Regions from separate parts of the Homo sapiens genome. Here region 1 is linked to region 2. The links come from fine-mapping of genetic effects on gene expression. A gene starts in region 2. The other region holds a variant in brackets. All regions are shown on one strand. Distances are between the middles of the regions.

Region 1 (5,371 bases), 86 kb after region 2:
TATTTTATTTTATTTTATTTTTGAGATGGCATCTTGCTCTGTCACCAGGCTGGAGTGCAGTGGCACCATCTCGGCTCACTGCAACCTCTGCCTCCTAGGTTCAGGCGATTCTTCTGCCTCAGCCTCTGAGTAGCTGGGACTACAGGTGCACGCCACCACTCCCAGCTAATTTTTGTATTTTTAGCAGAGACGGGGTTTCACCATGTTCCAGGATGGTCTCAATCTCAGGAGGCTGAGGCAGGAGAACTGCTTGAACCTGGGAGGTGGAGGTTGCAGTGAGCTGAGATCGCACTACTGCACTCCAACCTAGGTGACAGAGTAAGACTCCGTCTCAAAAACAAAAAATAATAAAGGCCAGGTGCAGTGGCTCACGCCTGTAATCCCAGCACTTTGAGAGGCTGAGGCAGGCGGATCAGGAGGTCAGGAGATCAAGACCATCCTGGCTAACACGGTGAAATCCCGTCTCTACTAAAAATACAAAAAATTAGCCAGGCATGGTGGCGCGCACCTGTAGTTACAGCTACTGGGGAGGCTGAGGCAGGAGAATGGTGTGAACCTGGGAGGCGGAGCTTGCAGTGAGCCGAGATCATGCCACTGCACTCCAGCCTGGGCGACAGAGCGAGACTCTGTCTCAAAAAATTAATTAATTAATTAATAATAATAATAATAAAATGAGGGCAGGTGTGGTGGATCATGCCTGTAATCCCAGCGCTTCAGTAGGCTAATGGGGGAAGATCACTGGAGGCCAGGAGTGCGACACCAGTCTCGGCTGGTGAGACCCTATCTCTACAAAAATTAAAAAAGTAGCCAGATGTGGTGGCACACACCTGTAGTTCCAGCTACTAGGGAGGCTGGGGCAGGAGAATCATTTGAGCCTAGGACTTCAAGGTTACACTGAGCTATGATCATGCCACTGCACTCAAGCCTGGGCAAGAGCAAGATCCTGTCTCTTTTTTTTTATTTTTTATTTTTTTATTTTTTGAGACAGGGTTTCACTGTTACCCAGGCTGAAGTGCAGTGGTGTGATCACAGCTCACTGCAGCCTGGACCTCCTAGGCTCAAGTGATCCTCCTACCTCAGCCTCCTGAGTACCTGGGACTACAGGTGTGCACCACCACACCTGGCTAATTTTTAATTTTTTTTTTAGAGACGAGGTTTCCCTGTGTTGCCCAGGCTGGTCTCAAACTCCTGGGCTCAAGCGATCCTCCCACCTCAGCTTCCCAAAGTGCTTGGATTACGGGCATGAGTCATCTCGTCCCACCTGGATCATCCTTTTTTTGTTTTAAATAGAGACAGGATCTCACTATGTTATCCATGCTGGTCTCAAGGAATCCTCCCACCTCAGCCTCCCAAAATGCTGGAATTATGTGTCACCTCACCTAGCAGCCGCCTGGATCATTCTTGCAGCAACTGAAAAGTACAAACAGGAAGGCAGCAGAAGTAGTGCTTCCAATCAGACCTGATTCACATTTTTCTTTCTTTCTTTCTTTCTTTCTTTTTTTTTTTTTTTTTTTAGAGACAGAGTCTTGCTCTGTCACCCAGGCTGGTGCGATCTCAGCTCACTGCAACCTCCACCTCCTGGGTTTAAGCGATTCTCCTGCTTCAGCCTCCTGAATGGCTGGGATTACAGGCATGTGCCACCACGTCTGGCTAATTTTTGTATTTTTAGTAGAGACAGAGTTTTGCCATGTTGGCCAGGCTGGTCTCGAACTCTTGAGATCCACCTGCCTTGTCTTCCCAAAGTGCTAGGATTACAGGCGTGAGCCAACATGCCCGGCCACACATTATTTTTAAAAAAGTATTTACAGTGCACTCAAACTTAGTTGACTCTATTCCCTTTTCTTTCATTGTGCCTATTTATTTGCTCTATCTCAATGGACTAAACTTTTGTAAAAGTCAGTTTCACTTTTGTTTTTTATTTCTGATGCTTTCCTTCAAAAAGGCAGAGAAACTGAGGGGTATTTTATGTCTTTAAATTTTTTAATGATACCTTTATAGGTCTTAGCCATAAGGAATTCTATACTTCACACTTCCTAATAAATAAAACGTGACATATAATTTAGAAGTTCACACATTCAGGCCAGACGTGGCGGCTCTTGCCTATAATCGCAGCACTTTGGGAGGTCAGGGGAGTTGCTTGAGGCGGATTACTTGAGGCCAGGAGTTCGAGACCAGCCTGGCCAACATGGTGAAACCCCGTCTCCACTAAAAATACAAAGTTAGCCTGGCGTGGTGGTGCGCGCCTGTAATCCCAGCTACTCAGGAGGCTGAGGCAGAAGAATCACTTGAACCTGGGAGGCCAAGGTTGCAGTGAGCCGAGATCACACCGCTGCACTCCAGCCTGGGTGACAGAGGGAGATTCTATCTCAAAAAACAACAATAAAAAAGTTCACATATTCAAATGGGTGAACATTTCTACCTTCGTGGTCCTCCAATTAAATCTTCTCTACTAGGCTGGGCGCGGTGGCTCATGCCTGTAATCCCAGCACTTTGGGAGGCTGAGGCGGGCGGATCATGAGGTCAGGAGTTCGAGACCAGTCTGGCCAACGTAGTGAAACCCCGTCTCTACTAAAAACACACACAAAAAGTAGGCAGGTACGCCTGTAATCCCAGCTTCTTGGGAGGCTGAGGCAGGAGAATCACTTGAACTTGGGAGGCAGAGGTTGCAGTGAGCCAAGATTGTGCGATTGCACTCCAGCCTGGGTGGCAGTGCGAGACTCCATCTCAAAAAAAAAAAAAAA[AT/T]CTTCTAAATACCAACTTCCTTCAGAGAGAAGATAGTAAATGTAATTTGTTTACTAAAGATAAATCACTGGCCGGGCACAGTGGCTCACGCCTATAATCCCAGCACTTTGGGAGGCCAAGGCGGGCGGATCATGAGGTCGAGAGATCAAGACCATCCTGGCCAAAATGGTGAAACACCTGAGATTACAGGCGTGAGCCACCACGCCCGGCCAAAAAAAAATTTTTTAAAGGTTGCTTATAGTTATCTTCCAATGCTGTTTCCCAGTTCATTTTCTTTCTTTCTTTCTTTCTTTCTTTTTTATTTTTTTTATAGAGACTGGGTCTTGCTTTGTTGCCTAGGCTGGTCTGGAACTACTGGATTCAAGTGATCCTCCTGCCTCAGCCTCACAAAGTGTTGGGGTTACAGGTGTGAAGCATTACACCCAGCCCCAGTTCATTTTCTCTCCCCAGAGGTGACCATTATTACCAGTTTTTTGTGTATCCTACAAATATTTATGTGCATATCTAAATTCCTATAATACTTTTTGCTTACTAATAGTCATATTACTTGTTTCATATACTGTATACTTAGATATACACTGTGTGGTTTCTGAATTTTATTCTCTTCTTTAACATTCCTTTTTTTTTTTGAGACAGGGTCTGGCTGTGTCACCCAGGCTGGGGGGCCATGCAGTGGTACAGTTTCAGCTCACTGCAGCCTCTGCCTCCCGGGCTTAAGTGATCCTCCCACTTGTGGGACTGTAGGCGTGTGCCATCATGCTGGGCGAATTTTTGTATTTTTTGTAGAGACGGGGTTTTGTCATGTTCCTCAGGCTGGTCACGAACTCCTGAGATCAAGCAGTCTGCCCACTTCGGCCTCCCAGAGTGCTGGGATTATAGATTGGAGCCACCACACCTGGCCTAAAATTCCTGTCTTTTTGCATCAGGTTGTTACGCATCTTTTGGCTTCTGTTAGGTATGACCTTCAGTGCAATGTTACATAGTGGTGGTAATAGCAGGTACCTGCTGGCCTTCTCATCTTTAATAGAAAAAAATTACGGGGCCTATGTGTGATGGATTTTACGCAGTGCATTTTCAGCATCTGTTGAGAAGGTTATATACTTTTTTTTCCTTTCCTGTTAACATAAAAATTGCTTTGATAGATCTCCTGATGTTAAACCAAGTCTTTACATTCCTCGGAGAAGCCTGTAATGTGAGAGCTATCTTTACTGTGAAGCTTTGTGTGTGTGTGTGTTTTGTTTTGTTTTGTTTTGTTTCGAGACAAAGTCTTGCTCTCTCTCCCAGGCTGGAGTACAGTGGCACAATCTTGGCTCACTGCAACCTCTGCCTCCTGGGTTCAAGTGATTCTCCTGCCTCAGCCTCCTGAGTAGCTGGGATTACAGGCAGGCACCACCACACACAGCTAATTTTTGTATTTTTAGAAGAGACAGGGTTTCACTATGTTGGCCAGGCTGGTCTTGAACGCCTGACCTCAGGTGATCCGCCTGCCTTGGCCTCCCAAAGTGCTGGGATTACAGGTGTGAGCCACCACGCCTGGCCTTTTTTTTTTTTTTTTTTTTTTTGAGATGGAGTCTCCCTCTGTTGCCCTGCTGGAGTGCAGTGGCACCATCTCGGCTCACTGCAACCTCCGCCTCCTGAGTTCAAGTGATTCTCCTGCCTCAGCCTCCCGAGTAGCTGGGACTACAGGTGCGCACCACCACGCCCAGCTAAGTTTTTTGCATTTTTAATAGAGGTGGGGGTTTCACCGTGTTGGCCAGGATGGTCTTGATCTCTTAACCTCATGGTCCACCCACCTAAGCCTCCCAAAGTGCTGGGATTACAGGCGTGAGCCACCGAGCCTGGCCTTTTTTTTTTTTTTTTTTTTTTTTTTTTAGGGAAGATATTTGACGATTCCTCTTGTTTTTGTTTAGATCACCATTTATTTGATTTTCAGCAATCACTAGTTTTTTTTTTTTTTTTTTTTTGAGACGGAGTCTCACTGTGTCACCCAGGCTGGAGTGCAATGGCATGATCTCGGCTCACTGCAACCTCAGCCTCCTGGATTCAAGCAATTCTCTTGCCTCAGCCTCCTGAGTAGTTGGGATTACAGGCGCCCACCACCATGCCCAGCTAAGTTTTGTATTTTTAGTAGAGACGGAGTTTTGCCATATTGGTCAGGCTGGTCTCGAATTCCTGACCTCAGGTGATCCGCCTGCCTTGGCCTCCCAAAGTGCTGGGATTACAGGTGTGAGCCACCATGCCTGGCCTGCAATCACTAGTATTTCTAAAAGAAAATTGTAAAAGTTCCTTTGTTCTTCATCTTCTGTCTGCCCTCTAAATGTTAATAATATTGAGACTTCAATAATTAATTCATTCATTCATCATAGATATTTATTAAGTAAGTGCTTTGTGCCAGGCACAGTGCTAGGAACTAGGTGAATAAAATAGATATGATCCCTGTCTTCAGGGAACTTACCTCCCTGTTGCTAGATTTTTTTTCCTTTCAGTCTGACTTCCCCACTGCTTATAGTTATTTTTTTGAGGTGGGAGAGGGGAACCAAACTCATCATCTCATCCCTTTGCTTAAAGATCTCTATTGAATCTTTTATGTTTATAGGATCATGTCTGGAATTTGAAGTACAGCATACAA
Region 2 (5,371 bases):
AACATTCTGAAGCTGAGATTCCAGAGGTAGCCCCTTCTGAAACACCCACTGGCTCTAAATGAACCCCTGGGCCAGGTGCTCTGGTTTTTGTTTGTTTTGAGACAGAGTCTCCAGGCTGAGTGCAGTGGCAGGATCACAGCTCACTGCAGCCATGACTTCCTGGGCTCAAGTGATCCTCCCACCTCAGCCTTCCAAGTAGTTGGGATCATGACTCATACCACTACACCTAGCTAATTTTTTTTTTGTGGAGATGGGTTTTTGTCATGTTGCCCAGGCTGGTCTCAAACTCATGGGCTACTTCCACCTTGGCCTCTCAAAGTGGTGGGATTACAGGCATGAGCCACAGTGCCTGACCTGGTTTTGTTTTGTTTTTTCAGTGATATGGGAAGTTATTCAGCTAGGTGTGAGTGAGGAACTAGAACATTTCTCCTGGACCTCCAGGCATGAATTTGGGAACTTCTTTCTCAGTCTCAGTCTATTTTCCTAAAATGTTTAAGGTCTTTATTCTTTTCTATGCAGCCCGACCATTAGATGTGACCTCCGTGGTTGTAAGGGATGGTTGTTTGGACACAAAATACCTAATATCCTGGGTGTCAAAATTCCCTAGTGAAGTCAGGCCCTGGACTTCTCTTTTTTGTCAGTCTCATAAATCAGGCAGACATGAGCTTTTATTTGTGGATGCACCAAATAAATACCCTAGTGGACAGCTTTGCTCAGCCTGGCCACTGAAAGAGCCACCTAAATAAAATCTCAGGTCCAGGCCGGGTGCGGTGGCTCACGCCTTTAATCCCAGCACTTTGGGAGGCCGAGGCGGGCAGATCATGAGGTCAGGAGATCGAGACCATCCTGGCTAACACAGTGAAACCCCGTCTCTACTAAAAATACAAAAAAATTAGCCGGGCATGGTGGCAGGCGCCTGTAGTCCCAGCTACTCAGTAGGCTGAGGCAGGAGAATGGCGTGAACCCGGGAGGCGGAGCTTGCAGTGAGCGGAGATTGCGCCACTGCACTCCAGAGCCTGGGCGACAGAGCGAGACTCCATCTCAAAAAAATAAAAAAAAATCTCACGTCCAGAAAAATTGGCCTTCCAGGGCCCCAGAACCCTTTTTACCAGTCTAGTAATAGCCTTTCATCAGCCTAATTTCCTATTCTTTTTAGTCTGAATGTATGGTGTAATGTGCATAAAATACACAAGTCCAAATTTTAGCATTCCGTGGACGCAAAATGTGCCAAAGGTGGATACTTTGCTTCTGTCATACATCGGTAGTCAACTTCCCTATACATCAAACTTTCAGCAAATTCAAACATTTTCCTTGAAAGCTGTGTTACTTTGGCCAAATTACTTAACCTCTCTGAGCTTCAGTGTGTCTACTTCCTCATGTCATGATTAAGAGTTAATATCTACTGGCTTAAAAAAGAAAAAAAAGGAAAAAAATTAAATGAGATGATGGGTGTGAAGCAGGGATTGGCTGAATGTAAGCATTCAATAAATATTCAGTTTTAAAATTGTAATCTCAGCCTTCCCGCCCTGCAGAGGCTACACCCTGGCAGGACTTAATCTCCTAAATCTCTGCCGCTTACCCTAGTCTTTTGCACCAATTTAATCATTCCTTCACGCAGGGTCTACTGAGCGCCATCCCTTGTGCTGGACTCTGGCTACTTAAATAGGAATCAAGCCAGGTCCCTACCATTGCTCAGCCCGCAGCCGAGTGGGAAAGAAGCTCGCAAAAGCAGCAAACAGGCAGTAATCGAGGTATGTATCTGCTTTTGTTAAGGGCAAGTGGGGGAGCGAAGGTCTGTGTCTGAAACTTGGGTGTGAGGGGTTAGTTGGAGTAATCCAGGCAATTGGCACTGCCCGTTTAAGAGCACGGGCCCAAGAGGGGAAGGGGACTCCAGGTGAAGCCCTAAGGCCCGGGAAGATCTGCGGGAGGCGGCAGGGCCCAGGGCGTTGAATGCCCGGCCACAAGATCAGCCTCCTCCCATTGGCGAAAGGAGCCCCGAAGAGCTTGTGTTCAGGAGGGAGGCCTCGGCCTGGTCAAGTCATCTAGCAGGAAGAGTCCCGGACAGTGCAAAGCAAATGCAAGAAGACCCCCTCCCTAGCCGATGGGAAATGCCCCAGCCGTTGAAGGCGGAAATAACGGCCTGTAGGCAACGGAACTCCCAGCGTTCGCAAAGGAGGGAGGAGCCGGAAACTCAGGGCGCGAGGCCTGTGGGCCCAGCGGTGAGGCAGCAGCTGGGGGCGGGGGGAGGGCGGACCTAGCTTCCCAGGGCAGGTGATTCGTCGGCCCCGGTGGCGGCGGCGCGTGCGACGGTCACCTCGGTTTGGGTGAGTCCCTGGGTTCGAGCCCGGGCCCCGCCAGCTGCCGAGTTGCCTCTCGGTGCCGGACTGTGACTCCCTCTGGCCGGCCCTGCACTCTGGCCTCCTGGGACGTCATCTGGAGGGATAGAGCCAGGCCTGGGACTCCTTTTGGGAGAGTTTCCGTTCTTCTATTCCGTGCTGTCCGGCCAGGACCCCTCAGGGACTTCTGTGGGGCAGGGGCGAATCATGCATGGCCTAGATGACCCCATGCCTAGAAAAAGGCAGTGCGGGGCGGTGGCGGCGCGCACGGCCGAGTGAAGCAGATAGCGTCCCCGGGGCTGGAGCCCGGTAGCAGGGGTAGGGAAACGCGGAGGCTGCCAGGATGCGGACCCAGGGGACGCGAGGCGGGGGCGCCGGATGGGGAGACGCGAAGGAGGGGGAAGGGGATGGGGGAGGGGGCTAGACAGGGAGGGAGGGTGGAGCGTGGGCGGGGCCTGGGGCGGGTCGGACTTTAGGGAGTTGGAGCGGGGGTTACTGGTGCTAAGACCACCTGGGGCTAAGGTCCGAACACTTGGAGGCAGCACCATCCAAGGAATGGGTTGAAACAGCAGGAGCCCGGCGGGGCGCAGTGGCTCACGCCTGTAATCCCAGCACTTTGGGAGGCCGAGGTGGGCGGATCACCTGAGGTCAGGAGTTTGAGACCAGCCTGACCAACATGGTGAAACCCCATCTGTACTAAAAATACAAAAAAAATTAGCCGGGCGTTGTGGCGCGTGCCTGTAATCCCAGCTACTCGGGAGGCTGAGGCAGGAGAATCGCTTGAATCCGGGAGATGGAGGTTGCAGTGAGCCGAGATCATGCCACTGCACTCCAGCCTGGGCAACAAGAGCGAAACTCTGTCTCAAAAAAAAAACAACAACAACAAAGAAAAAACAAAACGAAACAGCAGGAACCCGCCAAGAACAGCCTTGAAGGAAGGTAAAGGAACCGCCCCAGTATCCAGGACATCAGTTTTTCTTTTTTTTTTCTTTTTGAGACGAAGTCCAGGCTGGAGTGCAGTGGCACGATCTCGACTCACTGCAAGCTCCGCCTTACGGGTTCAAGCCATTCTCCTGCCTCAGCCTCCCGAGCATCTGGGACTACAGGCGCCCGTCACCATGCCTGGCTAATTTTTTTGTATTTTTTTTTTTTTTTTTAGTAGAGACGGGGTTTCACTGTGTTAGCCAGGATGGTCTCGATCTCCTAACCTCAGGTGATCTGCCCGCTTCAACCTCCCAAAGTGCTGGGATTACAGGCGTGAGCCACCGCGCCAGGCCCAGGACATCAGTTTCAAAGGTTGTGTGGTTCTTGGCAGAGCGGGAGCCCACACCAAGATAGTGCATGATAGGCCTAATAAAGGTGCTTTGGATTTGGTCATTACTTTGGTGATGAACTGAAAACATAATGACTTTTTAAAAATTTTTATCGGCCGGGCGCGGTGGCTCACGCCTGTAATCCCAGCACTTTGGGAGGCCGAGGCGGGCGGATCACGAGGTCAGGAGATCGAGACCATCCCGGCTAAAACGGTGAAACCCCGTCTCTACTGAAAATACAAAAAATTAGCCGGGCGTAGTGGCGGGCGCCTGTAGTCCCAGCTACTTGGGAGGCTGAGGCAGGAGAATGGCGTGAACCCGGGAGGCGGAGCTTGCAGTGAGCCGAGATCCCGCCACTGCACTCCAGCCTGGGCGACAGAGCGAGACTCCGTCTCAAAAAAAAAAAAAAAAAAAATTTTATCATGAAAGCTTTCAAACTTACACAAAAGTACAGAAAAGTAGAGACAATAGCATACATACCATTATGGATGATTTGAATAACATACCATATGGATCCCAAGCACTCATCATGAGGCCTCAGTCACTCAGGAATGGCAACCCTTGGTTGCATTGCAAAGATATTAAGGCACACCTCAAGCCGGGTGCAGTGGCTCATGCTTGTAATTCCAGCACTTTGGGAGGCTGAGGCAGGCAGATCACTTCAGGTCAGGAGTTTCAGACCAGCCACGCCAACATAATGAAACCTCTTCTCTACTAAAAATACAAAAATTAGCCGAGCATGGTGGTGCATGTCTATAATCCCAGCTACTCAGGAGGCTGAGGCAGGAGAGTTACTTGAACCCAGGAGGTGGAGGCTGCAGTGAGCCGAGATCACACCACTGTAGTCCAGCCTGGGAGACAAAGTGAGACCCTGTCTCAAAAAAAAAAAAAAGGCCGGGCGTGGTGGCTCACACCTGTAATCCCAGCACTTTGGGAGGCCAAGGTGGGCAGATCAGGAGGTCGGGAGATCGAGACCATCCTGGCTAACACGGTGAAACCCCGTCTCTACTAAAAAATACAAAAACAAAATTAGCCGGGCGTGGTGGCGGGCGCCTGTAATCCCAGCTACGCGGGAGGCTGAGGCAGGAGAATCACTTGAACCTGGGAGGCGGAGGTTGTGGTGAGCCAAGATCGTGCCATTGTGCTCCAGCCTGGGCAACAAGAGTGAAACTCTGTCTCAAAAAAAAAAAAGTTTCTTTTATGTTTAAAGGTTACAGAGGTTCAGTTATTCAAGATAAAAGGAGTTCTGGAGAGTTCTGCACAGCAGTGTTGAACATACTTAACTTTACAGAACTGTACACCTACAAATGGTTAAGATGATGAATTTCATGATATGTGTATTTAGCCACAATTTTTTTTTCTTTTTACAGACAAGGTCTTGCTATATTGCCCAGGCTGGCTTCGAACTCCTGGGCTCAAGCATACCTCCTGCCTCAGCCTCCAGAGTAGCTGGGACTAAAGGCAAGCACAACTGCACCTGGCAAACCACGATTTTTAAGTTCCTTTTAAATTAAACAAAATCTAATGTTTCAAATCAAGAAAAATATCTGACTTCACTTGTGCAATGGAAAGTAACTCACTGGCCAAGTAGAGGCCTATGGAGTTGTATTTTTCACTGTAGAGGCTCTGGAATGAACCTGTTGATTTTGATGCTCAGAGCACTGGACCTGGCCTGGGATGGAGGTTAAGCACTGGAGGTGCCCTCTGGTTTACACTAGAACC

Direction of the effects. Alleles are on the strand shown, and positions count from the first base shown. SD is a standard deviation of normalised expression in the study named.
In carriers of allele T in region 1, the expression in lymphoblastoid cells of the gene that starts at base 2,265 in region 2 tends to be higher than with AT alone (moderate effect, 0.56 SD a copy in GEUVADIS).

What was found. PIP is the estimated chance that this variant, and not a neighbour inherited with it, causes the effect. A credible set is the group of variants that fine-mapping cannot tell apart.
Region 1: its variant is the best candidate, but not a certain one, in a credible set for the expression of SNUPN in lymphoblastoid cells (GEUVADIS, PIP 0.72).

What each region holds. Positions count from the first base shown.
Region 1 is chr15:75,536,687-75,542,057 of GRCh38, reverse strand. The region is part of intron 1 of PTPN9 (protein tyrosine phosphatase non-receptor type 9); the gene reads left to right. Among named protein-coding and RNA genes, the nearest start is that of PTPN9, 40 kb to the left of the region's middle. The variant AT/T (reference allele first, on the strand shown) is at 2,742.
Region 2 is chr15:75,622,619-75,627,989 of GRCh38, reverse strand. It overlaps SNUPN (snurportin 1), which reads left to right and starts at 2,265. Exons shown (of 9, transcript NM_005701.4): 1 at 2,265-2,324. RefSeq lists an enhancer at 1,897-2,086 and a silencer at 2,737-2,786.